2 separate regions of the Homo sapiens genome follow, and region 2 is linked to region 1. The links come from fine-mapping of genetic effects on gene expression. A gene starts in region 1. The other region holds a variant in brackets. All regions are shown on one strand. Distances are between the middles of the regions. Region 1 holds the start of NQO2 (N-ribosyldihydronicotinamide:quinone dehydrogenase 2). Region 2 holds the start of LOC101927759 (a long non-coding RNA gene).

Region 1 (15,628 bases):
CTTGAGAAACATCTTGTCTATCAATAACATGTTTAACTATATATTATATCAATATGCTCAAGAAATCAGGCCTTGGTAAAGATTTTTCTTTTTTTTTTTTTTTTTTGGGACGGAGTCTCGCTCTGTCGTCCAGGCTGGAGTGCAGTGGCACGATCTCTGCTCACTGCAAGCTCCGCCTCCCGGGTTCAGGCCATTCTCCTGCCTCAGCCTCCCGAATAGCTGGGACTACAGGCACCTGCAACCACGCCCGGCTAATTTTTTGTATTTTTAGTAGAGACAGGGTTTCACCATGTTAGCCAAGATGGTCTCGATCTCCTGACCTCGTGATCCGCCCGCCTTGGCCTCCCAAAGTGCTGGGATTATAGGTGTGAGCCACCGTGCCCGGCCCCAAGATTTGTCTTTACTAAGTAATGCATGTGAAATATAATAACTGACAATGATAATACAGTGACCAGGTAACTCAAAAATTATAAGTCATTCAATTGAATAACATAGTGTTTTTGAAATGTAAAAAGATAAATATAAATAATAAGTCATATTAAGACAAAATTTATTTAACTGATAAAAGTAAAATTTGTTATTCTCTCTAGCTGTATAGATAAGACAGGATCTCTATAGTGCATTATTTCAAGACTTACTTAGTAGGAAAACCAGTAGGTTTGATTTTTTTTTAAATGCCACTTTGGTTTTAAAGCACTCGCTTTGTCCACTAGTTTTCTAGATCTGAGTATTGGCTATTAATGACATATTTCTAAATTATACACATCAATAATGTGACAATAGCTTCAGGTCAGGAACTACTGTGTGATTTAGATGTTTGTTCCTTCCAAACCTCATGTTGAAATTTGTTTCATCTTTTTTCTTGTTTTCATAGATAAGGGCCTCGCTCTGTTACCCAGGCTGGAGTGCTGTGGTGTGTTTGTGACTCACCGTAGCCTTGAACTCCTGGGCTCAAGCAATCCTCCCACCTAAGCCTCTGGAGTAGCTGGGACTACAGGTGAGCACCGCCAAGCCTGACCTCAAGTTGAAATGTGATCACCAATGTTGGAGTGGGGCTTAATGGGTGGTGTTTAGGTTGCAGGGCCAGATCCTTATGAATAGATGAATGCCCTCCCTCAGGGGTGAGTGAGTTCTTCCAGAGCTGGTGGTTAGAAACAATCCTTGACCTCCCTCCTTTCTCTCTTGCTTACTCTCTTGCCATGTAATCTCTGCACACTCCAGTTCTCCTTCACCTTCCTCCATGAGTAGAGGCAGCCTGAGGCCCTCACCAGATGCAGATGCCCAACCTTGAACTTTCCAACCATTCAGAGTCATTAGCCAAATAAACCTTTTATCTTTATAAATTACTCAGCCTCAGGTATTCCTTTATAGCAACACAAAACAGACTAAGACAGGAACCTACACTCCTTAGAAGAAGGCCATATGATATAAGGGTGTTGAGTCTAAGATTTTAGTGTCTACACTTCGTCTTACATTTTCCATTCTTTCCATTTTCACAAGTCCTATGATACAGTTGAAAATCTTTCCTACGCACTAGTAAAGCCATAGGAACTTAAAATTATTAAGTGTCAAGCACATATGAAAATCAGACAATGTGCAAAGAAAAACGGGCTATGTGTTGCATGAGAACGAGGAACTAATGTTCAGTTTAGGGATATGAACTGTTCAGAAACTTGGTCTGATCAAAGTTATGTCAGCCTTAATAGTAATCTGACTGATAAACAACTAATACTTGAAAGACGGTACTGATATGGACTATTTCACCTGGAGATTGTTTACTTGATAACTTTTTTTTCAAGTTCTGCAAGGTGATTTAACATCCAAAAATATATAGTCAATCCTGGGTATTCATGGAGGACTGGGACCAGGACCCCTCAAATATATCAAAATCCACAGATGCTCAAATCCCTGATATAAAATGGCATAGTATTGACACATAACCTTTGCACAGCCTCCCATATACTGTAAATAATCTCTAGATTACATATAGTACCTAATACAATGTAAATGCTATATAAATAGTTGTTACACTGTATTTTTATTTGTATTTTTTTATTGTTGTATTGCTTTTTCTTTCAAATATATTCCATTGGAGGTTGGTTGAATCAGCAGATATGGAACACACAAATACAGGAGGACAACTATATCTAAATCTAGATTAATGTAAGCGGTGAGAAAATATTTTATCTCCGTCTAAGTAGGTCCTACCAGAGGGGAAACTAGACTCACTCAAAGATTGCTTTGATCAATCCACACACAGTTCAGTGATGGACAGAGTGTCAGTATCTGTTATATGTGTCACTATCCCATGCTAGAGGTGTCAATAGATTATGTAACCTTTCTGAGGAATCACAATACAATAATTGATAATAATATTGATCACATAAACATAGACTTCCTTGACACAGGATTGCCACAGACCTTCAATTTGTAAAAAAAAAAAAAATGCAACATCTGTGGAAGTACTATAAAGAGAAGCAGAATAAGGCAGATATGCCTGTATAAGACTAAGGGAGAATCTTAAAAGCTGCAAGAGATGTACAAGGGATCCTCAATAAATCCATACATCTGTGGCCAGTGAATTTTTGACAAGAGTGCCAAGTCCATTCAATGATGAAATAATAGTTTCTTTAATATATGCTGTGAGAGAAATGGATTTCCACATGCAAGACTAAAGTTGGGCTCCACTTCACACCATATGTGAAAAATAATTCACAACCTAAATATAAGAACTAAAGCCATATAGAGGAAAACGTAAGAGTAAATCTTCATGATCTTGTGTTTTGGGTTCTTAGATAAGACACTAAAAGCCCAGGAAGAAACAACAAAAAATAGGTAAATTGGAGTTCATAAAAAATGTGAAACTTTTATATCAAAGGACATTTTCAAGAAAGTGAAAGACAACCTACAGAATGGGAGAAAATATTTGTAAATCCTATGTCTGATAACATCCAGAATATGTAAAGAACACCTACAACTCGGCCGGGTGCGGTGGCTCACGCCTGTAATCCCAGCACTTTGGGAGGCCGACGTGGGCGGATCACCTAAGGTCGGGAGTTTGAGACCAGGCTGACCAACATGGAGAAACCCTGTCTCTACTAAAAATATAAAATTAGCCAGGCGTGGTGGCGTATTCCCGTAATCCCAGCTACTCGGGAGGCTGAGGCATAAGAATCACTTGAACCCAGGAGGCGGAGGTTGCGGTGAGCCGAGATCTCGCCATTGCACTCCAGCCTGGGCAACAAGAGCAAAACTCCGTCTCAAAAAACAAACAAAAAACCTACAACTCAACAACAAATAGACAAACAACCCAATTAAATGGTCAACAAAGGACTTGAATAGACATTTCTCCAAGGAAGGTATACAAATGGCCAGTAAGCACATGAAAAGATGCTCAAAGTCATTAGTCCTTAGGGAAATGCAAATCAAAACCACAATGAGATACCACTTCGCACTTGCTAGGATGGCTATAATTTAGAGGGAAAAAAAAGAAACATAACAAATGTGCGTGAGAATGTAGAGAAGTTGGAACCTGTGTACATTGTTGGTGAAAATGTGAAATGGTGTAGACGCTGTGGAAAACAGTTTGGCTGTTCCTCAGAAAGCTAAACATAGAATGACCATAGAATTGTAATACCGACAATTCCACTCCAAGGTGTATAACCAAAATTATTGAACACAGGGACTGAAACAGATACTTGTACACCAATAATCATTGCAATATTATTCACAATAGTCAAACAACAGATGAGTGGATAAACAATGCCTGGTACCCTTCCTTCCTTCCTTCCTTCCTTCCTTCCTTCCTTCCTTCCTTCCTTCCTTCCTTCCTTCCTTTCTTTTTCTTTCTCTCTTTCTTCTTTCTTTTCTTTCTGTCAGTCTTGCTCTTGTTGCCCAGGCTTGAGTGCAATGACACAATCTCAGCTCACCGCCACCTCTGCCTCCTGGGTTCAAGTGATTCTCCTGCCTCAGCCTCCCGAGTAGCTGGGACTACAGGTGCACACCACCATGCCCAGCTAATTTTTGTGTTTTTAGTAGAGATGGGGTTTCCCCACGTTGGCCAGGCGGTATACACATTTTTCTATTATTCGGCCATAAAAAGGAATGAAGTTCTGATGCATACTACAACATGGATGAAACTCAGCAACAAGGTTTTTGAGGAAAAAAAGCTTAGTGAAAAGGCCACATCTTGTAGGATTCCACTTATATGAAATACATGCAATAGACAAATTCATGGAGACAGAAAGTAGATTAGAGGCTACCAGGAGTGGAAGGAGGGGAGAATGGGGATTTATTATCCAATGAGTGCAGTGTTTCTATTTGTTTTTGTTTTTGTTTGAGACAGGGTCTCGCTCTGTCATCCAGGCTGGAGTGCAGTGCCACGATCTCAGCTCACTGCAGCCTCCGCCTCCTGGGTTCAAGCAATTCTCCTGCCTCAGCCTCTGAGTAGCTGGGATTACAGGTGTACACCACCTGGCAAATTTTTGTAGAGATGGGGTTTCGCCATGTTGGCCAGGCTGGTCTCAAACTTTTGACCTCAGGTGATCTGCATGCCTCTGCCTCCCAAAGTGCTGGGATTACAGGCGTGATCTATGGCCCCTGACCCAAGTGTTTCTATTTGGGATGATGAAAACGTTTTGAAAATAAATAGTTGTAATGGTTGCACAGCACTCTAAAGGTAATTTATGCCACTGAATTGTACACTTAAAATGGTGAAAATAGAAAATTTCATGTTATACAGATTTTGCTACCCAAAAAACAAAACAAAAAATCCAAAACCTTTATGTTATTATGAAGAAGCAGTTTTCCAAAGGAATAGGGATGCTGGTAGCAGAAGGGAAAGAAATCTCATTAAATAAAAACAAAAGCAATGACCTCTTCAGGAGGTGGCTCAGCTAGTTTAGCTTTACCTTAGCACCATGATGGTTCATTTTATTCAGAAATAGAAACATGGGGCGTTGGGGAGAAGAGGAGATGTGTACCTGCCTCACCTGCCTCCCTGCCCAGAATGCCGACTCCGACTCTTGCTTTCCACTAAGGCTGGGGATTAAATGAAAAGTGAGAATCTGGAAACCCCCAGAGATGATGTTTGTCGTTGGAGCTGATTTTATCTCATTTTAGTAGCATGACCTCCTCCTCAAACTCAGGATGCAATTATGGTCAATCTCATTAGTGTGCAGTAATTGCTCAGCCCCAATACCAGATTAGCAGGAAGTTCTGTTATTTTCCTTTTGAGGATGGGCTCCTACTGAACTGTCCTGGAATCTACCACCATTCAGGTTACAAAAGACCCAGGGAACTAGGCCAGTCCAGCTCCCAACCCCAAGCAGGGAGCAACTTGCTCAGTCCACGTTGTGATAGCTCCTCGCTGCCACAAGGTGGTGATGTTGCATCACACACGCGCATGATGGGCGCGCAGGCGCCAATGCTCCCAGGACCTGCTGTTCCATTCCTAAATGAAAGTTGTTCCCAGGATCTGGACTCACAAGACAAGGCAGCCTATTCCCTGCTGGGGAGCTCAGGGGCAAGAGGGCATCTCGGAGGGAGGGCACATTCTCACCTCTGAAGACAAGGAGAACATCATCAGCACATAGACCAATCCCAGCAGTGCACCTTAGGATGGGGAGGGCCACTGTGAGTTACAGCAAAATGAACGAATGAATGAACCAATAAATGTCTGAGAGGGAAAGTCCCAACGACCCTCAGGAGGTACAATCAAGAGTTGCAGTTATTTTCGTTAGGAACGTTCTAAACACAGGGGAAACCTTCCTTCCTTCTGCTCTATTGTTGGAGTGGGGCCATCCCGGGACACCAGAAATCAAGGAATTGAGTTTGGAGAAGGGACTTGGGGAGGTCACAGTGGCAGGTGACTGCCAAATGAGGTGGCAGAAGCCAGCAAGCGCTGGAAAAAGTCGGCCCAAACTGTTCACCAGCACCGCCCCCCATAACTCCCCACCGGCTCTGGTTTCAAGACTTTCCGTTTTCTAGGTATTTCCTTGGCCTTAAACCATTTTCCTTTAAACGAACTTTTTCTGTGAAGCCATCCGGTTTCCCCCGATAGTGGCATCTCACAAAGGACAATCCAGTATCCCAACAGCGTGTTGCGTTCCGCGGGACGCAGATTTCCTTCACAGGCACCCCCCGGGTTGCGTTTTTATAGCCACACCCACCCGCCCCCCTATCTCCTGGGCACTGCTAATGAGTCCTGCATTTCTCTCCTTTGGTCTTTGGATAAATGAACCATCCGTGCGTGACCTTTGCGAGGGCATCTTGCATAATACCAGTACACCAGCGGCGCCGTCGGTGAGTGACCTTTGGGACTGGTTTCTCTCACCAGCGTAACTCCCCGGGAGATCCGAGCAAGCTGATGAGTGTATCAGTGGCTCATTCTTTCTGTTGCACCACGGACCCTCATTCTGTAACCGGGATACCAGCCAGAGATGGGGAGCGGGAGGCGCAGGGCAGGGGCGTCCCTCCTCTCAGCACAGCCTCCCCGCGCTGGATTTCTATCAATCCAGTTTCCACCTGCCTGGAAGTCAGCAGGGTCCTCCCCAGTCCCAGATCGCCGGGCGAGGCCCCAGATGGACCTCAGGGGCGGGGAGTGGGCGGAGCTTAGGGGCCGAGGCGAGGTGTGGGTGGGGCGGGACGCCGCTGTGGAGGCGGGGCCTGGGCGCGGACGGGCGCGGAGCGAGGCACCGCACCGCCGGGGCGGGGAGTGGGCGGGGCTCGGGGGCGGGGCGGGGTGTGGGCGGGGCTCACGGGCGGGGCGGGTGAGTGGGCGGGGCCTCGGCGTGGTAGGCGCGCTGCGTAAAGAGGCCTGCAGTCCCGCGGCGCGGGGCAGGTTCCGGGCTGCTTAGGTTGGCACCGGTCCGTGGTCCCCGGGGGCGCAGTCGCAGCGCTCCCGCCCTCCAGGCGTCAGCGAGTGCGCGGTCCAGTGCGGCCGGAACCTGGCGCAACTCCTAGAGCGGTCCTTGGGGAGACGCGGGTCCCAGTCCTGCGGCTCCTACTGGGGAGTGCGCTGGTCGGAAGGTGAGTGATCCCCTGTCGGGGACCGGGGGACTTGGGAAGGACAGTTCCCGGACTGGACGGCCAGAACGCTCTCAGGGATTTCAGCTGGCCGGCCATATGGCCCTGTGGGTCGTCGCGCCCGGGCCAGGGACCATTCTGTACATAGGATCGTGCTTGGCTCTCACGGAACGCGCCCACACGCAGGGTCCCGGTGTCGAATCGTCTGGTGGAATCTGCCCTCAACCCTATGGAGCGGGTGCTGGTATCATAGTCATATTACAAGTAGGAATCAGCGGGCCCAAGGTCAGTCTGTAAAGGGGGTACCGGGGTTTAGGCCCGTGCGCTGCCCAGCGCTGCCCTGAAGGCGCGGCTGAACCACTGGTTTGCGCTGCCTTTGTCAAGGACATTGTGGCACTGTGGAAAAAATGAAAAATCAGCTTCTCTAACCTATAATCTCTCTGGGAAAAAAAAAAATCAGCTTTTTTTTTTTTCCCCGAGACGGAGTCTCACTCTGTCGCCCAGGCTGGAGTGCAGTGGCACGATTTCGGCTCACTGCAACCTCCGCCTCCCGGGTTCAAGCAATTCTCCTGCCTCAGCCTCCCGAGTACCTGGGATTATAGGGGCGTGCCACCACGCCTGGCTAATTTTTTGTATGTTTAGTAGAGACGGGTTTCATGTTGGTCAGGCTGGTCTCAAACTCCTGACCTCGTGATCCGCCCGCCTGGGCCTCCCAAAGTGCTGGGATTGCAGGCGTGAGCCACTGCTCCCGGCCCTCTTTTTCTTTTTTCTTTTTTTTTTAGAAGAGTCTCACTCTGTTGCCCAGGCTGGAGTGCAGTGGGGCAATCTCAGCTCACTGCAACCTCTGCCTTCCAGGTTCAAGCGATTCTCCCCCCTCAGCCCCTTGAGTAGCTGGGATTACAGGCGCCTGCCACCATGCCCGGCTAATTTTTGTATTTTTAGTACAGGTGGGAGTTTCACCATATTGGCCAGGCTGGTCTTGAACTCATTCTTCTTCCTTTCTTTTTCTTTTTTTTTTTTTTTTGAGATGGAGTTTCACTCTTATTGCCCAAGCTGGAGTGCAATGGCACAATCTCAGCTCACTGCAACCTCTGCCTCCCGGGTTCAAGCTATTCTCCTGCCTCAGTCTCCCGAGTAGCTGGGATTACAGGTGCGTGCCACTACACCCAGCTAATTTTTGGTATTTTTAGTAGAAATGGAGTTTCACCATATTAGTCAGGCTGGTCTCAAACTCCTGACCTCAGGTGATCCGCCTGCCTCGGCCTCCCAGAGTGCTGGGATTAATGAACCACTGCGCCCGGCCAAAAATCAGCTTCTTTAACCTTTAATCTCTGAAAAAATAAATCAGTTTAACCTTTAATCTCCGAAGATCACAGCCAAAGAAATACATGAAAAGGAACAAGTATTAAATAATATATACTTCTAGCTGTGCTGTTTATAGTTTTGGGAAAAAAATGGAAATAACCTAAGGTCCCAGAAATAGGAAAATGGGCACAAAAGGGTATGCAGGCAATGGTTTAGCTGCCGCATGAATACACACTGAATACACTGTGAGATGTTGTCTGTTAGAATGCCCAGCACGGGGACTGTCCACATGGAAAGAGGCACAGGAAAAAAAGTGAAAACATTATAAAATAACTTCTTAAAATTAAATAATGTACACGTCAAAAATATCAGAGCCCACTTGACCTGGTATATACAGTTTAATAACCACATGGCTCTTTTTTCCTGTAGGCCTGGGTAGGTGCATAGTTTCTAAAAAGGGAGAGAACTGTCACTGCTGTGGATGGGGTGCCAAGGGAAGTGCCTGGGGTCAAGTGAACAGTGACACAACTGCAAGTCAAGAGCCTGTGTTGGAGTCTTTCCCCACTATTTCAAATAGTATAGAAAATAGAGCTGAGTCACTCAAATAGAGCTGAGTTAGTCACTCAGCTCTTGGACCTCAGATTCTTATTCTTAACCGCTAGGGGGATGGAGACAGAAGTCACAAACTCACATGCCACCAGCCATATGATGTAAACATGTAAACTGGGCCAAGGAATACAAAAGGGAGTGGTGAGCTGGGGACACTGAAGAATGGATGCCCTGTCTAGAGGAGTGAAAATGAAGCATTTCATACAAACAACATGATTTCGGGCAATCACTTTGGGAATCAGGATAAGGTGTTCCCCCAGTCTGCAGAAACACTGGCAACATTTACAAAGGTAAATCATTTCATATCACTCTATTTTCTTTTTCTTTTTTGAGACAGAGTCTTGCTCTGTTGCCCAGGCTGGAGTGCAATGGCACAATCTTGACTCACTGCAACCTCCACCTCCCAGGTTCAAGTGATTCTCCTGCCTCAGCCTCCCAAGTAGCTGGGACTACAGGCACATGCCACCATACCCGGATAATTTTTGTATTTTTTAGTAGAGATGGTGTTTTGCCACATTGACCAGGCTGGTTTCAAACTCCTGACCTCAGGTGATCCCCCCACCTCGGCCCCCCAAAATGCTGGGATTACAGGTGTGAGCCACCACAACTGGCGATCATTCCATATTACTCTCCAGCTTAAGAGGCTCCAAGGGCTTTCTGTCAGGCTTAGAATAAAATCCTCACCCCTACCCTAGGAGGGGTCAGGTCAGACCCCTCCCACCTCCCTGACTGCATCTACCACCATCCACTCTTTTTTTTTTTGAACCACAGTTCAGCCAAACAGGCTTTCTTTTTTTTCTTTTACTTTCTCTTTTTTCTTGAAACAGAGCCTAACTCTGTCACCCAGTCTGGAGTGGAGCAATCCTCTAATCTCAGCCCCCTGAGTAGCTGGGATTACAGGCATGCACCACCACACCTGGCTAATTTTTAAAAATCTTTGGTAGAGATGGGATCTCACTATGTTGCCCGGGCTGGTCTCAAATTCCTAGGCTCAAGTGATCTCCTGCCTCAGCCTCTCAAAGTGCTGGGCCTTCTGCTTCCCTGGGCTTTGCCAGGCCTCCCTATGCATTGTGATAGCCAAAGTTTGCTTTCTACAAAGTCACCTCCAGGCAGTGACTGTCCACCAGGGCACTGTAGAGCCTCCCAGCTAATGATGAAGTCACTCACTCTCCTCTCTTTTTCCTTTAAGATAATCCCTTTCCAGACCCGCCATTTTGGCTCACCCTGTAAGTTACAGCCCCACTTCTCACTGCCAAGTGTGGGTGTCACTGCTGGCTCAGGGAGCATGGATCCTGTAAACTTGCCTCATCGGGAGGCTTTGAGGAGTGACCCCCAGGAACTAGACAAGTAACTTGTTCTTCACAATCACTGCCCTCCCAAGAACATCCAGGATTTCAGCCTCAGTGCTAAGACAACCATGTCTCTCCCTGACACATGCTCGCTGCTGAGAATTCTAGGAAAAGCAGAGGGCTGTGCAGGCGCCCCTGCCCCTAGGCTAGGAGAGCTGGCAAATGCCTGGAGACCCAAAGGCCTCATCCTCAGGGCGGCCAACTCTTCTGTTTTAGTGATATACAGACTATCTTTTATTGTGATTTATAGTGCAACTTACCGGTTCAAACAATACTACCTGTATTCATAAACTTTCTTTTTCCTTTCCTTCCTCACTGCCCAGCTTTAGGTTCATTCTTGTAAGTGTTGCTGGTGTCAGAATAGGAACCTCCCTGCGCTTTGAAGGGATGAATGTGACCTCTCCCACATTCTCCGGTGCTGTGATGTACCTTAAACACAGCAAGGTACTTGGACACAAAGCCTGTGCCTGGAGCACTTTCAGACAGACAGTGCATGGCCCTCGCTACAGACTCAGTGCCATTGTAGATGTTTCTGCATGGAAAATACATAAACACAAATATCTGCAGTTGCCAATCCACCACCATCTTGCAGCCCCAAGAGAGCCCCGGGAATCCAGGTTCCTTTGGTATTTCTGCTCCCTGCCCTTGGTGCATAGCCTCCATCCCCAGGACGACAAGAAGGCTGACTGAGCCCTAACATCATCCCACAGTCCAGCTGGGAAGAGAGCCAGCGACAAAGCCAGAGGGAGCTAGCTCCCACACCTCCCAGCCCCAGCTGAGTTCGCTTCTTGAGGGTATTTCTTGGAAGCCCCGCCTGTGACTTCTGCTGACACCTCACTGGCCATCTCAACTGCAAGGCAGCCTAGGAAATGTAGTGCTTACCTGTACACGTGGATTCCTGGAATCAATTCAGGGTCTGTCCTTGGGGAACCAGAGTGGGGATATTCAGTCACTAAAGATGCAGGTTCCCAGCTGTCCAGTGAAGTCAAGCGAATGGGGAAGGATTTGAAGTCACCTTTGGGTGTTTGGAGTGATCAGAGCTGTCTGCCCTCTTGGGGAGTGACAGTGCCCCACTCTGTTAAGTCCCATGCCTGCCCCCAACTCAGCTTCAGCCACAATGATGTAGCCTCTTTTCCTTTCCATCCACAGGGCACCTGGCCTGGGTGGAGCCCACTCCTCAGCACCCACCTCACTTCTTGCAGTATTCTGCAGACCCCAGCCCTGTGCCTGTGCTCCTGGACAGCTGGAGATAAGGAGTGGGCCCTGGAAGATGCTCATTCAGGCCCTGCTCAAGATTCCAGTCCTGGTGGGGATAAGCACCACTTTTGTGTGTCTCTGTGCTTTTTGTTTTGCTGTAAAGACACACTGATAGGTTCACGTTGTCGTTTGGACACAACATGCGCGATGCGTGTCTTCACACTAAGCCCTAGTCACACTCTCTGCATTGTTTTTTTATCCCATTTTTTCCTACTGTGGTACAGAACATCTCACATAAAATTGACCATTTTAACCACTTTTTTTGTTTGTTTGTTTTTTGTGTTTTTGGACAGAGTCTCGCTCTGTCTCAGCCTCCCGAGTAGCTGGGATTACAGGTGCACACCACCACGCCCGGCTAATTTTTGTATTTTTAGTAGAGACGGAGTTTCGCCATGTTGGCCAGGCTGGTCTCGGACTCCTGACCTCAGGTAATCCACCTGCCTCAGCCTCCCAAAGTGCTGGGATTACAGGTGTGAGCCACGGTGCCTGACCTCATTTTAGCCACTTTTAAGGGTAGAATTTTCTGGCTGTTTTCATTCATGTACTGATAGACACTTGGGTTGCTTCCATGTTTTAGCTGTTGTGGAAAATGCTGCTTTGAACATGGGTGGGCAAGTGGTTTTCAAGACCCTGCTTTCAGTTTTTTGGGTTCAGAGTAACGAATGGAATTGCTGAGTCATATGTTAATTCTCATTTTTCTAATTGTAATTTTTGGGGGCACAGCACCTCTCCAGCAGCGGCAGCACTCGACCTTTCCCCAGCGGTGCACGGGGTTCCAACTTCTCCGCATCCTCACCTACGTGTGTTTTGTTTTTTGGTAGTAGTAGCCATTCTAATGCGTGTGATATGGGATCTCATTGTGGTTTTGATTTGCATTTCCCTAATGATTAGTGATGCTAAGCATCTTTTCATGGCTTACTGACCATTCATACATCTTTGGAGAAAAGCCTACACAAGCCTTCTGCCCATTTTTGCATTGAGTTGTTTGCTTTGTTGTTGTTAAGTTTTATCTGAGCTGTTTTTTTATGGTAGGGAGAGTGGGTTTGTTGGAGTCTCCTTGTATCTCCCAGAAGGAAGCCAGAATTTCAGAGATGGCCAGGAGGGGGTGAGGCCAAAGGCTCCCCTGGGGAGAACTCACGTTTTTCCAGAGCCCCATTGTGTGCCAGCCACCGCACATAGCAACTGTCTCTCTCTCACTCTTCTGGGCCATGCTGTGACTTTGTTGATGAGGAGGTTGAGGCACAGAGGGGTGGAGGGATGTGCTGCAGGGCCCACAGCTACAATGGGCAGAGCTGGAAATTGCACCAAGTCTGTCTGATGCGGGGGTCTCCTCTGCTCCTCTGGCCTCCGCTGCATCCCTGGAGAATCTCTGAGACTTCTGGTTAGAGCCTGGGTCTAAGCCAACTCCCATTATTTTCAAGTGAGGGGAAGGGCCGACAACTGCCAGTGCTGGCCCACCAGAGTCTGGCACCAGCCGAGGAGTGCACGCACCCATTGGTGGTGTGGCGGTTCACTGATCCCCCAGCCTTCTGCTCGATCTACGGGGAAAACTGGGGAAGGCAGGAAGGCCAAGGAGGCTCAACTCCTGCTTCCTACCGTGGCTCATTTCCTGGGTCCTTTGCTGTATGACTGTCTGGATGGAAGGTTCAGAGTCCTCTCAAAAAAGGAAAAAAGTATGGGTTTTGACATCCTGCGTGGCTTGTCCTCTGAGGCCTAAATCTCCAGAAGATTCCTGGCCTCTCTTGAGAGGTCTTTCTCTGATGTGTTTGCGTGTCTGTCAGGAAGCAGCAGTGATGCCTAGATGTGGTACATTCGACCTCACCTATGCCTCTCCCCACCCCCTCTGGGTTCGTTTTGTCTTCCAGATTGCTGGACTCGCTGAAGAGAGACTACGCAGGAAAGCCCCAGCCACCCATCAAATCAGAGAGAAGGAATCCACCTTCTTACGCTATGGCAGGTAATGATTCACTATTGTGGAGTAAGACTTTTTTTTTTTTGAGATGGGATTTTGTTGTATTGCCCAGGCTGGTCTCAAACTCCTGAGCTCAAGTGACCCTCCCACATTGACCTTCCAGGTGGGAGTTAGACTCTTAATCAGAAATTGGATACATTGTTGTAAAAAATCCAAGCCACGTGGAAGTGTATAAACTATCTGGAATTATCTTGTTTTCTATGTTCTCACTTGTTTCATTGTTCCTTTCGACTCCCTCCAGAATTTAGGTTCCTCAAAAGTGGGGCCCTGCCTATCCTGTCTTTGCTGTGCCTCCAGGCCCTGAAATTCTCCCTGGGCTGTAGCAGGGGCTCAAGTGAATGAACCCCAGGAGGCATCTTGGGTAAAAATTCAGTACGATTCTATCTTTGCTTTTGCAACTGCTTATCATGCACATATACATGAACATGCAATCTCTCAACTTTTTAATTTCACCTAACGATATAACATGGAGAGCCTTTCGTGTTAGAACGCACAGGTTCACCTTACTCTATACATTATGGTGTAGATTCGGATTTTCGCCCTTGGCACCACTGACATTCTGGGCCAGATAATCCTATGTTTTGGGGGGTCATCCTGTGCACCCTGTTTAGCACCTAGCACCATCCCTGGCCTCTGCCCACCAGATGCCAGTAGCACCCCTCCCCCACCGGCTGTGACAAACCAAAATGTCTCCAGGCATTGAGAAACGTCCCCTAGCAGGCACAACACTGCCCCAGTTGAGAACCATTGGTGTAGGTATTTCATTTGCATCTATTCTCCTGTTAAGCCCCTAAGTATAGTTCCTTTATTGAAACAAGAGTCTGAGAAAGTAAAATTAAAATGTTAACCATGAATCTAACTTATGGAATTCAACCTTTGTAGCCAGCTCAATGCCCTGAAACCCATTGCTTCAAACTGATACGTGTATCTTTTCCTTAAAGTGTCATTATGAAAAATTTAAATCAAGAGTTTAACATCTTCTTAAAGGTGACCAGGGTAAATTTAATTAAGCAAATCACCAGGCTGCCTCCCAGACGAAGTCAGTATATAAGCCTGGAGACTCTTTCCAATGAGGAAAATACTGCTTCAGAAGCCCCTGGTGTGAACGATACTGCCAGTGCCAGGAGGGCCTGACTCTTCCTAGAGTCCTCTTTGTTATCAGCATCACCACTGAAAGATGGGCTCCATGTGGCCCTGCCTTCCCATGAGACCAGCGGGTCTGATTCCTCATGTTTTGTTTAAGTGTCAGATTTGATGGACTGGGGGAGATGGAAGCAGAACTGTGCCACACTGAAAGGTGCCTGTAGCTGATATCTGCAAATGTAGGGTTAGCATGGAAGACTAATTCCAGCAGTTCTTTATTTTGGTGTTAGGGAGCTGGTCTAAACCTTCTTACAGAGGATAACCAAATTAGGTTGGGCTTTTAAAAGATTTAGTGGTGGTATTTTTGAGGAGATATAATTTGACCCATTGTATTGTGATGTTGAGCTATGAATAACTGGATTTTTAAAATGCCCATTGCTTTAAAACTGCCACCTATTAGAAAGTTTGGTATTTCTGGGGCCAGGTGCTGTGGCTCATACCAGTAATCCCAGCACTCTGGGAGGCCAAGGTGGGCAGATCACCTGAGGTCGGGAGTTCGAGACCAGCTTGACCAACATGGAGAAACCCGGTCTTAACTAAAAATACAAAAAATTATCCGGGCGTGGTGGCGCATGCCTGTAATCCCAGCTACTCAGGAGGCTGAGGTAGGAGAATTGCTTGAACCCGGGAGGCAGAGGTTGCAGTGAGCTGGGATCGTTGCTCCAGCCTGGGCAACAAGAGCGAAACTCTGTTTCAAAAAAAAAAAAAAAGAAAAAGAAAAAAGGAAAGAAAAGAAAGTTTGGTGTTTCTGGCCAAGTGCGGTGGCTCATGCCTGTAATCCCAGCACTTTGGGAGGCCAAGGCGGGTGGATCACTTGAGGCCAGGAGTTCAAGACCAGCCTGGCCAACATGGCAAAATCCCATCTGTACTAAAAATACAAAAAATTAGCTGGGCGTAGTGGCACACATCTATCGGGGGAAATTCAGCCAGATATTGGGCGAAATTCACCCCCAATATTTCACGTAGG
Region 2 (13,433 bases), 29 kb after region 1:
CCAGCACCACCCAAAGTCCCCCTCTGTGGAATCGGAGCACTGAGTGTGTTGGCCTCAGGGACACTGAAGGAAGCCGCCCGCCCGTCCTCTCAGCCTTGGAGTCTGTTCAACCATTATCATTCAAACCACCTTCCATCAAAGGTTTGAATACAATGAGCAGCTGCTCCTGCATTCCTCCAGGACACAGGTTCACCAGCTGGGTGTCTGTCAAAGACAATGAGCCTCCGAGTTGGTCCAAACTTGACTCTCCTTGAAGGTCTTCTCTGGCCATCCTCAAAATCCACAGGATGAAATGTGTTCGATGAGGACAACTCACTCGTGTCGCGGCGTTTGGATGGGCTGCGGCGTGGCCGCTTCTGCCGTAGAGACGGAGCCTTCCTGTGGTTCGCGCACTTCCTTCCTGAAGCCTCATATTTCCCATTCCGTTGATACTTGGCCACCTCAACCTGCAACGTGCAGTTTCCAGTGTCATCTTCATCCAAATGCATGAATGCAAGATCCACAGCTTCCCTCTTCCAATGATCGCACAGCCTGTCTCCTTTAAGATGTCCTTGGTTATCTCTGTAAAACTTGACCTTAAGTTCTTCTGTCTGGGGATCGCTCATAATAATGCCAAATGGACAGGCGTGTGAATGCCTCCACGGTAACGACCAGAGGCAAACCGGCACATACACGTTTGTATTTCTCCTTCTTCAGCATGAAGCCTTCCTTTTTCTCCCCTCTTTGTGGGATCAGTGGGTTTGGGGTTTTTCTTGGTGGCAGAGCAGCGCCGTCACCGAGCAGCCGTCGCTGGCCTGATATGCAGCGGTGAAGTCTTCACTGGTTTCTCTTCTGCTCCTGTGTGCTTGCAGAAACCGGGCTGGCTCTTGATTGGGATTGTAGGCTGCAGAGGCTGGGGAAGGGCAGACAGCCTCGGGAGACACGCCGGAAAGGGCGGCTCCCTCGTGCTCCTCAGTGACTCAGGGTTTTGGCCACATAGCTCCCCTCCTCCACCCTCGCTCAGCAGGCTGCATCCGGGGCGGGGCTGGCAGGCAAAGAGGCTGTGTCACAGCCCTTCAGAGCCTCAAGCTGGGGTCCCTAGGGTTTCTGGACCTCAGATCACTGTGAGGCAGGAGGTCCTCCACCCTCCCTCCGGCAACTCTGAAGTATGGGAAGGTGCGTTCTCGAACTGCCGAGGGGCCTGTTCCTGTGTGGGTTGAGAGGATGGGAAGTTGCTGAAATCCAACCTCTCTGAGAGCCGGTGCTGTCACCTTGGCCTGAGTATGCTGAAGACATTAATTCCGGTTCCCAAGCAAAACTGTTAGCAATTCGAGGGCTGGGCTCTTGCCTATGTCTCATCTCCTGTTAGTACCGGGCACCCTGATACATTTTCTGCCGGTTTTTAAGAATTTTTTTTTGAGACGGAGTTTCACTCTTGTTGCCCAGGCTGGAGTGCAATGGCGCGATCTCGGCTCACCTCGACTTCCACCTCCCTGGTTCAAGCGATTCTCCTGCCTCAGCCTCCCGAGTAGCTGGAATTACAGGCATGCGCCACCATGCCCGGCTAATTTTGTATTTTTAGTAGAGACAGGGTTTCTCCATGTTGGTCAGGCTGAACTCACCCGACCTCAGGTGATCTGCCTGCCTTGGCTTCCCAAAGTGCTGGGATTACAGGCATGAGCCACCGCGCCCGGCCGGTTTTTAAGATCTTATTGCTGAAAAACTTAAAATAAAAAATAAATTCAGTATCAGCAGGGCAGCAGGAATTGCCATTAAAAAAAAAAAAAGAAAATTGGAAATGACTGCAGCCAGGTGTGTGTGATTGGGCCCCGCGACCTTTTTCTTAGGCAAACAGGGCTTTGTGGATGCAGAAAGACTTCTTTGGTTGTGTAGTTTGTCTCAGAGCCTCTCGTGGGTGGAGCCTGGTAAAAAGAGGAAAGAGACTCATGTTGCTCAATGTGAGGAAGCACCAGGAATTTTGGAGAAGTTCCCAGCAGCTCAGGAGAGTGGCTGGTGCCTTGTCCCAGGGGAGAGGGAAATAAGCACAGGCCTATTTCTTTCTCAAGACGGAAAAACCGAGCCCCAGAAAATGGCGATAAGATGGGGATGCAGGAAAAAGCTAGCTAATGAACAGTTCAGCAGTGGGCACCGTGTGGGAACCTCTCCTAAGCCGCCCTCCCTCTGATGGATGCATGCTCAAGTGATTTCGTTGGCCCTTAAAGGAAAGTGTTATTCCATCCTGTAATCCTAGCACTTTAAAAGGAGGCCGAGGTGGGAGGATCACCTGAGGTCAGGAGTTCACGACCAGCCTGGCCAACATGGTGAAACCCCGTCTCTACTAAAAAATACAAAAATTGGCCGGGTGTGGTGGCATATGCCTATAGTCCCAGCTACTTGGGAGGCTGAGGCAGGAGAATCACTTGAACCCGGGAGGTGGAGGTTGCAGTGAGGTGAGATCGTGCCATTGCACTCCAGCCTGGCCACAGAGCGAGACTCCATCTCAAAAAAAAAAAAAAAAAAAGACATCTGCCCAAGGGTCATAGCTGTAGAGGGGCAGATGTGGTTTGAACCCAGGGCGTCTGGTTCCTCTCTGGAAGCAACCAAAGTGCCTGTGATTGGGGTAGTGACAAAGCACTCTGAGCCGCTGCATGGCAGATGCTGTGAAGAGTCATCTTTGCCTGTCCCATATCTATTCCCATTTTTTCTGATTGTAACACCTTGTTTTTTTGTGTGTGGTGGGGGAACCATGCCCTTTCAACCAAGCTATGTGGTGTTCATAAGGGTAGCCCCTCCTCCGACCCCAGGAGTGGCAGTTCACAGCCCTGACTGATCACAGTGTTCCGTGGCCTAGCTGTAACCACCCCAGGGAGTGAGACTGAACTCAGGGGTTCATTGGACCTATCAGGAAAGAGAGACCTTTCTTGTTTCTGGACTTGGAGCTGTGATGAAGTAAGTGGGTCAGGGGCCAACACATAGACAGCGTTGGCCTACAAATGCAGCCCAGGCAGAGGACGGTGCAGCCAAGCCACACAGAGAGACAACTTCCTAGTGACACGCTGTGAACTCCTGCATCCACCCCTGCCTGAACTGGAGCTTTTCCTCTTCAGCTCTTCAGTTATGTGAGGCAAGATGTTGCCTTTTTTGCTTAATGCTGTGAGTTGAGTGTACAGCAGTTACAATCAAAGAATCCTAAATAATGCTGCAAGCATGGTGACTATCTACATGGGAATATGCAGTACTCCAGTGAAGACAAAACATAAATTAATTTTGGAATCTGATGACCATAATCTAAAAACATTCATAGAGGTATATAAAAATTATAACAAAATTTAAAGTAGCATATCTCCTCATGAAGCAGGTTAAGTGTATACACAAAGAAGGAGGAGGAAAAGGTGAGAAAGAATCTGCCCTTGTGGGGAAGTGACAGAGGCAGAAGAGGCTGATGCAGTCCTGCATCCAGGCCCAGCTCTGCCAGCAGCTGAGTACCCCTGAACAAGCTCCCCCACCTCTTCGGGCCTCACTTTCCCCATCTATGAAAGAAAGGGAGTCTAGCTTCCATAGCTGCCCCAGCTGATACGCAAGGTGCCAGTGTGTCCTCAGTCCTGTCAGGAGAAACCTTCCCCACTAGAATCCCAGGAGGAGCTTGAAATCCTGTCTGGGATCCTGACGGCCCAGGTGCTGACCCTGCCTCGGGTTGTGTCTGCTAAGAAGTCTGATTTCTGCTCATCTCTCCCCATTTCTTTCTTCCCATAAAGTGGGCTGATGCGCTGGAACGTCGATGCAGCCAGTGATGTGTTTGATGAGAATGTATTGAGAGTAAAGCTGCCCAGAATCCAAGTGTGTGTCATCTGAACTCTTGAATCATGGATGGAAGGTATGTCCTCTGTTGATGTCTCGCAGCCTGAGCTGACAATCTGTAAGAAGGTTTTGTTATCTTCATGTTACAGATGGTGAACCGAAACTTACAGAGCTCAAGTCACTTGACCAGGCTCCACCCCTACAAGAGGCAGCACGCAAACTAAAAACCAGGCGGCCTTTTCCAAAGCTTGTGCTCTGCTCCACTGCTGGAAGGAACCCTTCGGGGAATTGAAGCAGCACTGAACAAAGGCCATTTTTAAGAAGCGACACCAGAAACCTAAGGCGGGGTCCCCGGCTCAACAAGGATCTCATGTTTTGTGGGTCAGAGATTCTTGTGTCGTGTCTGGGTGAGGTCAAAAACCATGCAGAGACTTTCACTTCCTGTTCTGTGGCAGACAAGACATCTGAAAAGCTCTCCTGCAGCAACACTTCTAGATGCCAAGTAAATCACAGCAAGTGCACTTTTAAATGTGTTACTAAGATCATAAAAATGAAGGAAAATGCCCAAGCATATCCCCAACCCCTCACCCCACAACCACCACCACCACAATAAACAAGTTGCTGACAGTGGATTGGCAAGCGAGAGTGGAACCTTAGGCTGCGTTGGCATCAAATACTAATAACCAAGCAAAAGGGAGCAAGACCAGGCCTGGGGGCTGTGCCATTGAGAGGTGACCGCGTGCTGGCAGTCCTCACAGCCCTCGTTCGCTCTCGGCGCCTGCTCTGCCTGGGCTCCCACTTCGGCGGCACTTGAGGAGCCCTTCAGCCCGCCGCTGCACTGTGGGAGCCCCTTTCTGGGCTGGCCAAGGCCGGAGCCGGCTCCCTCAGCTTGCAGGGAGGTGTGCAGAGAGAGGCGCGAGCGGGAACCGGGGCTGCGCGCGACGCTTGCGGGGCAGCTGGAGTTCCGGGTGGGCGTGGGCTTGGCGGGCCCCGCACTCAGAGCAGCCGGGCGGCCCTGTCGGCCCCGGGCAATAAGGGCTTAGCACCCGGGCCAGCGGCTGCGGAGGATGTACTGGGTCCCCCAGCAGTGCCAGCCCACGGGCGCTGCGCTCGATTTCTCGCCGGGCTTTAGCTGCCTTCCCGCGGGGCAGGGCTCGGGACCTGCAGCCCGCCATGCCTGAGCCTCCCCCACTCTCCGTGAGCTACTGGGCAGCCCAAGCCTCCCCCAAGAGCGCCGCCTCCTGCTCCAGGCGCCCAGTCCCATCAACCACCCAAGGGCTGAGAAGTGCAGGCACAGGGCGCGGGACTGGCAGGCAGCTCCACCTGGGTGAAGCCAGCTGGGCTCCTGAGTGTGGTGGGGACGTGGAGAACCTTTATGTCTAGCTCAGGGATTGTAAACACACCAATTGGCACTCTGTATCTACCTCAAAGTTTGTAAACACACCAATCAGCACCCTGTGTCTAGCTCAGGGTTTGTGAATGCACCAATCCACACTCTGTATCTAGCTATTCTGGTGGGGCCTTGGAGAACCTTTATGTCTAGCTCAGGGATTGTAAACGCACCAATCAGCACCCTGTCAAAACAGACCACTTGGCTCTACCAATCAGCAGGATGTGGGTGGGGCCAGATAAGAGTATAAAAGCAGGCTGCCCTAGCCAGCAATAGCAACGAAGTCGGATTTGTTTCCATGCTGTGACGGTTTT[G/GT]TTTTTTTGCTTATTGTAATAGCTTTTGCTGTTGTACTCTTTTCTGGTCTACACTGCGTTTATGAGTTGTAACAGTCGTCACAAAGGCCTGCAGCTTTCACTTTCTGCCTCAGCCAGCGAGACTGCAAACCCACCAAAAAAAAAACTTAACTGTCACACCCACCCTAAGGGTCTGCAGCTGGGTTTTTGAAATCAGACCAAGAACCCACCAATTCAGAACCCACCAATTCGGGACACACCATGTGGGCAGCTGAATCAAGACTTTGTGGAGGAGCTCCAAAGTGGGTAGAAAAGTACGTTCACCCTTACAGGGAGACTGGCAGGCAGCCTTTTTCCTTCTCGGTAGAAAAATAAACTCCTGTTCCATAGAGTTTGGATTTGGAATTTATTGTATCCACAACCAGCAGTCAGCAAAATACAAAATGATCCCAAGTGATAAAAACCTTAAGTATAGTAAGTAATTTAAGTAAACATAAATTCTCTCTGGAGAAAACCATGATCTCATGGCTATTAAGATTCCCATTGATTAAGATGAGTGTAATATATGCTCTCCAGAATTATCAAACACATGAGGAAACAAAACATGATTGGAAATAAAAACAACAAGCAATAGATTTAATCACCCACAGTCTTCAAATATTGGCATTACGGGATATGTAACACAAAATAATCATGTATAAAATGTTTAAAGAAAGACATTCAAAAGTGACCAGATTTGAAACACAAAAGAACGTTTAGAATTAAAATACATGAAAGACTGAGTAAATTAAACATAGATTAGCGGCCAGGCACGGTGGCTTACACCTGTGATCCCAGCATTTTGGAAAGCCAAAGTGGGAGGATGGCTTGAGAACAGAAGTTTGAGACCAGTGTGGGCAACACAGCAAGACCTCATCTCTACAAAAAATAAAAATAATTAGCTGTGTGTGACAGTGCTCGCCTGTAGTCCCATCTACTCGGAAGGGTGAGGTGGGAGGATCCCTTGAGCCCAGGAGTTAAAGGCTGCGGTGAGCTATGATTGCACTGTACTCCAGCCTGGGTGACAGAATGAGACCATGTCTCAAAAGTAAATAAATAACAATATAGCCTAATTTATAGGGTTAAAAAGCAGATAAAATTATAATCCTGGGCAAAAATAATATATAGAGGGTATAATCCAAATAAAAACAGTTCTTTTTTCAGGGAGGGGGATAAAGCTAATGATTTAGATTTTTAAGTGATATATGTATATTCAAGTTTCTAGGATAAGTATTAAAATAATAGAAATTGAGGTCAAATTAGTAGAGGGGGAAAATGGAATAAGAAAAAACGCTATCATCCAAAAGAAGATAAGAGTGGAGGAAAAAAGTCAACAGTAAAAGAAGGACAAATTGAGGTGCAAAATACAATGGTGGAAAAAAAATCCTAATATACCTGTAATCATAAAAAAGGTAAATAGAAAAAAATGTCAGTTAAAAGAGTCTAGCTAGATAAAAAGCTTAAATTTAGCTACCTTCAGTTTACAGGAGATATATCTAAGCCATCAACACAAAATGTTAAGGGTAAAAGGACGGAAAAAGATTTACCATGCAAATACTCAAAAGCAGGTAGGATCGTTGTATGAATATCAAGCAAAAATAGACATTAGAGCAAAAATCATGATTAGGAATAAAGAAGGTCTCTGTGTAATGATGAACCCATCAATTCAATATGAAGTTACACCAATTCCAAACTTGGTATGTGTCTAATAAACAGCTTCGAAGTATATAAAGCAAACACTGAATTATGAAAAGAAATGGAAAAATCCACTATCAGAGTGGGAGACGTCAGGACACATCTCTTAGTAAGTGGTAGTCAAACAGATGCCATTAAAATAATAAATATTGGCCAGGCGCGTGGCTTACGCCTGTAATCCCATCACTTTGGGAGGCTAAGGTGGGCGGATCACCTGAGGTTGGGAGTTCGAGACCAGCCTGACCAACATGGAGAAACCCCATCTCTACTGAAAATACAAAATTAGCCTGGCGTGGTGGTGCATGCCTGTAATCCCAGCTACTCAGGAGACTGAGGCAGGAGAATTGTTTGAACCTGGGAGGCAGAGGTTTCAGTGAGCCGAGATCGCGCCATTGCACTCCAGCCTGGGCAACAAGAGCGAAACTCCCTCTAAAAAAATTTTTGAACAAAATTGATCTCATAGGTATAAAAAAATCACTGCACCCAGCAATGTAGACAATACCAGGTGTTAGTGAAACTGTGGGTCAACAGTTGAATTCATACTCTGCTGGTGGGTAGTGTCCATTAGTACATCGTTCAAAAATTCACTGTAAAATTGAGCATTTACACATCTCACTATACTAACCAATTAGCAAATAATTAACTACAGGTCCACACATCAAGATGTGTATATTTCATAATTATAAAGTTGAGTGAAAAATACAGGTTATAGATATCACTCAGTCCAAGTATAAAAACATACCAAATAAAAAATCACCTGCCAAATTCATGTGGAAAAGCATAATTAAATATTCAGGATAGTAATGTGATGGGAGGGGGCACACAGGTGTTTGAAGGTATTTTTAATGATCTGTGTCTTCAGCTAAATGGTGAGAACTCAAGTATTCATTTCACTGTCATGTATAAGTCAATTTCTATACAGTTTACTTTTATACATGTGAAATAGTTTGTGATAAGAAAGAGTAATATAAAATAAATCTGGATGCATATTGTGTTAAAAATCCTCTTGGCCAGGCACAGTGGCTCACACTTGTAATCCTACCACTTTGGGAGGCTGAGGTAGGGGAATTGCTTGAGCCCAGGAGTTGGAAACTAGCCTGGGCACCATAGTGAGACCCTATCTCTACAAAGTATTTTTTTTAAAGTTAGCTGAGCATAGTAGTACATGCCTGTGGTCCCAGCTACTCGAGAGGCTGAGGTGGGAGGATCACTTGAGCCCAGAAGGTTGAGGCTGCTGTGAGCCATGATCACACTACTGCACTCCAGCCTGGGTGATAGAACAAGAACCTGTCTCAAAACAAAACACCACTTGTTCCCCCGCCAACACCAAAACTTCTTGAGGCCTACCACCGAGGCAGGGCATGTTGCTTTGGGGACAATAGCTGAGTCAATGGCACCTTCAGAGTCCACACGGAGGTCTCCTTGGGAGTGTGAGCCCTGAACACTCAAGGGCATGTCCACCCTAGTGGACACATGTCCATGAGCCTGTGCAGGATGTAAACTCAACAGTGACCCCAGAATGGCAGGGTCAAAGCCCCCATGCTAGAGGATAAATCAGACTTTGCTATTATCTCACCTCTCAAGGTTTGAAAGAAAACACTCAGCATTCTTGTGCTATTAAGGGTGGAAGGGCGGCTATTAAGGGCATTTAGGGACCGATGAGATGAACTGGATTTTGTTTTTGTTTTGAGGCAGGGTTTCACTCTCGCCCAGGCTGGAGTGCAGTGGCACGATCATGGCTCACTGCAGCCTCGACCTCCCAGGATTTCCCACTCCTGTGCAGCAGAGGATGCCAGGTGCACTTGATGTCGGGCTGGCTGTCACGAATATGCCCTTGAGCTGCACAGGCTGCAGGTGGCAGCAGGGCCCTGGGACAACCTCACAGACCCGCCCCACTGACGCTGGCTCCTAGAGAGGTGGTTGCTGGCCGATCTATCAGGGGCTTCTCCTTTTTGCCATATTCAGATTGGAGCCATAAATTAAATTCTCAGGAGAAAAAATTAAGCTACTTTTAGAAGTCATGAAACATGGGCTTTGGGGATCAGGATTAAAAACTTTAACAATAACATTGCTTAATTCTCAACTCCTATTCTTGGTAGGATGAACTGAAACCAGTGATTTTACCATTATGTACAATATTTTTTCTTTTGAAGGGCCTGAACAGACGGTTCCAAATCCAGGCTGTATCATTATAATCACAGTTTCCCTGGCTCACACTTCAGCGTTTTGCCTTTCATGCATCTCTCTCTGGCACAGAAGCTATTTGCCCATTTGTCTTCCAGAAAGACGAGAAGTCTTATAGGGATTTCTGAAATGAGAATGCGCCACACTAGGGGTGGGTGAGGTGCCCACATAATCGAAGCCGTGAGACATTGCCACTGCCAGATTTCTCCCCATTACCTGTATCACCACCCAAAGAGGATGGGTCTCAGGCTCCCAGGATCTTTGGCCATTCTTTCTGCTTTGTATTAGGTATCAAATTCCCTTGTGCTTGGAGGAGAAGAAAACCTAAACATTCTTATGATCAGATTGATATTTGTCAGGGTAGGACCATGGCTAAGAGCAAAAGTCAGTGCCCTGGTGAATTCAACATGCAGCATGAACTATTATTATTCTCAGAAGGACAAGGCTAAAACCTCTCACCTAGAATAGCCACATTATATCAGACTTTTCATAAAGTTTAGTTATTTCATTTGGAGAGGGCATAGATTTATTCCATCTTATTTTCCAAGACTGTGTATTGTAAAATTAGACGAAAGTAAACCTTATAAGTTATCCCTTAAAATAGTGTAAAATGATCACCATTTTAAGAGTATGTACTAAAAGTCTTACTTTTCAGCTTTGACTACAGTGATGCATTTGCTAATGGTTTTCTTCTTCCTTGAATTATGACTAAGAGGAATTTTTTCCCCATGAGGTTCTTTCACTGCTCGTGACTTAGGTAAGAAAGTGGTCATCATCTACGTGCATCCTTGAAGAACATGGGTGTGGGTGAACTGAGCAGGCAGGGCTGCACAGTCACTGTGTCTGATTTACATGCCATGGACTTTGAGCCAAGGGCCACAAGGAAAGACATCGCTTGTGAGTTACTGGATTAATTAATGTCTTAGTCTCTTCTTTAAGGATTCCCTTTCTTTCTTCTTAAGAAACTGTCCCACTATGACCACATATTGAACGGCATAACAAGGGCCAGGAATAGGGGTTTAGAGAAAGGAACTAATGGTACTCCTTAACATTTCCAAAATATAAACATACACCCATAGTTCAAGTGCAGACAAATGAATGCCCTCAGTCACTACTCAGGAGGTACCTCCCAAGCTTATGCGCTTGAGATGCATTTTCATCATTACTAGAATATAACAACCTTGGCCAGGTGTGGTGGCACACACTTCTAATCGTAGCACTTTGGGAGGCCAAGGCAGGAGGATTGCTTTAGCCCAGGAGTTCAAAACCCACCTGGGCAACACAGTGAGACCCAGTCTCTAGTTTAAAAAAAAGAAAGAAACAACTTCATTTGTCTCCAAATTTTGCATTGGTCGTATTTGCCTTTCTCAATATTTTCCGAATGTCAAGTATAGATTTCTTAATAGAGTGTCCTAGTCAGTTCTAGCTGCTATAACAAAATACCATAGACTGGTGGCTTATCAACAACAGAAATTAATTTCTTACAGTTCTGGATGGTGAAAGTCCAAGATCAGGGTGCCAACACAGTCCGGTCCTGGTGAGGGCCCTCTTCCAGACTACATGCTGCCAACTGCTCGTTGTATCTCACATGGTGGAAATAGGGTGAGAGATTTCTCTGAACAGCTGGGACTACAGGCATGCACCATCACGCCTGGCAAATATTATTTTTTATTTTTTGTGGAAGTGGGATCTGGTCTCTCTGTGTTGCTCAGGCTGGTCTTAAAACTCCTGGGCTCAAGCGATCCTTCTGCCTTGGCCTCTCAAAGTGCTGGGATTACAGGGGAGAGCCACCATGCCTGGCCACTTAAAATTGTTGAATTTTATCATATGTAAATTATTCCCTGTAGTGGGATGAATTGTATCCCCCTCAAAAGGCATGTGCAAGACTTAACCTTTGGTACCTGAGAATGTGATCGTATTTGGAAACAAGGTCTTTGCAGGCATAAGTAAGTTAAGGATCTCAAGATGAGACAATCCTGAATCTAGGGTGGACCCTAAACCCAGTAGCTGTGTTGTTATAAGAGAAAGCAGAGAGAGATTTGAGACCCAGAGAAGCCTCCGAGGGGAAGGCCATGTGAGGCTGGAGGCAGAGACTATAGTGAGGCTGCTGCAAGCCAAGGGCACCGATGATTACCTACGCCCACTAGGAACCAGGAGAGAGGTATGGAACAGATCTACCCTCACAGTCTCCAAAGGGAACCAGTCTTGTCGACATCTTGACTTCAGACTTCTGGCCAGATCTATGAGACAATGAAATTCCATCATTAAAAAAAAAAAAAACAGAAAAAACAAAAACAAAACCAAAAATACCCTCCAATGATCCATTACAAATATTCTAGAAACCAGGAGAAAGGAGAAAGTCTCAGTAAAGAAATCGAAGATATAAAAAAGAAACAGGCCAGGCACGATAGCTCACGCATCTAATCCTAGCACTTTGGGAGACCAAGGTGGGAGGATCACTTGAGACCAGGAGTTCGAGACCAGCCTAGGTAACATAGTGAGAACCCATCTCTACGAAAAATAAAAAAAAAATTAGGTGGGTGTGGTGGCACGTGCTTGTATTCATAGCTACTTAGGAGGCTGAAGCAGGAGGATTGCTTGAGCCCAGAAGTACAAGGCTGCAGTGAGCTGGGATCACGTCACTGCGCTCCAGCCTGAGTGTCACAGTTATACTGTCTCGAAAATAAAAAAACAAAAAGAAGCAAATGGAAATTTTACAACTGAAAAATACAATAACCAAAATACAATCTCAAACTCCAAACAACATAAACTGACAGAAATACACATCCAGATATATCATAGCAAAACACATGAAAATAAGGATAAAGAAAAACTCTTGAAAGCAGGCAAAGAAAAAATATATATATTACCCATAGGGGAACAACAATTCAAATGGCTGCAGATTTCTCATTAGAAACCATTTATCTCAGCAATACAGAGAACTAGAGATGGAAAATCATCAAGGAGATGACATTCCATCACTGGTATGGTTGGGATGTGTGTCCCCTACGAATCTCATGTTAAAACGTGACCTCCAATGTTGGAGACAGGCCTAGTGGGAGGTGTTTGGGACGTGGGGGCAGATCCCTCATGCATGGCTTGGTGCCGTTCCCTTGGTGATGAGTGAGTTCTCACTCTATTATCTAGTTGAAACAGCTTATCTATTATCCAGTTCACATGACAGCTGATTGTTTAAAAGAGCCTGACACCTCCTCCCTTCTATCTCTCTCTCTCCCTCTCTCACCATGTGATAAGCTGGCTCGTCTTGCCTTATGCCATGATTAGAAGCTTCCTGAGGCCTCCCCAGAAGCCAAGCAGATGCTGGTGTTGTGCCTGTACAGCCTGCAGAACCATGAGCCACATAAACATCTTTTCTTTATAAATTACCCAGCCTCAGGTATTCCTTTATAACAATGCAAAACAGGCTAACACAATCATTAATCAACTAGATCCAATGAACATGTATATTACGCTCCATCCAACAATGACAGAAAACACATTCTTTTCAAGCACACCTGGAACATTCACCAAGATAGATCATACCCTGCAGCTTAACAAATTTGGAAAAATTGGAATCATACAAAATATGTTATTACCATAATAGAATTAAACTATAAATCAATAAAAGGAAGACAATAGAAAAAACACCAAACACTTGGAAATTAAACATACTTATAAGTGACCCATGGGTCAAAGAAGTCTTCAGAGAGATTAGAAGTATTTTTAACTGAGTGAAAATGAAAATACAACATATGAAAATATGTAAGATGCAACTAAAGTAGTCCTTAGAGGGAAATTCACAGCATTAAAATGCTTACATTAGAAAAGGGGGTCTTGAATCAATAATACCAGCCTACACCTTAAGAAATAAAAAAAGAGTGAAACGTACCCAACACGAGCAGAAGGAAGGAAATCATAAACAGGAGTAGAAATCCATACAATTGAAAATAGCAAACAGTAGGGAAAATGAAATGAAAACAAAAGCTGATTCTTTGAAAAGGTCCATGAAACTGATAAATCTCTGTAAAGATTGATCAAGCAAAAACGAAGACACA

The links.
Region 2: its variant is fine-mapped to the expression of NQO2 in thyroid (GTEx, PIP 0.93).

What each region holds. Positions count from the first base shown.
Region 1 is chr6:2,993,057-3,008,684 of GRCh38, forward strand. It overlaps NQO2 (N-ribosyldihydronicotinamide:quinone dehydrogenase 2), which reads left to right and starts at 6,838. Exons shown (of 7, transcript NM_000904.6): 1 at 6,838-7,029; 2 at 13,412-13,503. The coding sequence starts at 13,497. NQO2-AS1 (NQO2 antisense RNA 1) reads right to left here and starts at 6,619. Exons shown (of 2, transcript NR_186367.1): 1 at 6,335-6,619. RefSeq lists silencers at 857-1,041, 6,587-6,836.
Region 2 is chr6:3,023,019-3,036,451 of GRCh38, forward strand. LOC101927759 (a long non-coding RNA gene) reads left to right here and starts at 1,045. Exons shown (of 3, transcript NR_152848.1): 1 at 1,045-1,155; 2 at 3,735-3,853; 3 at 3,927-4,416. It also overlaps the pseudogene HTATSF1P2. RefSeq lists enhancers at 219-1,418, 2,862-2,971, 3,940-4,099 and a silencer at 2,457-2,751. The variant G/GT (reference allele first, on the strand shown) is at 5,482.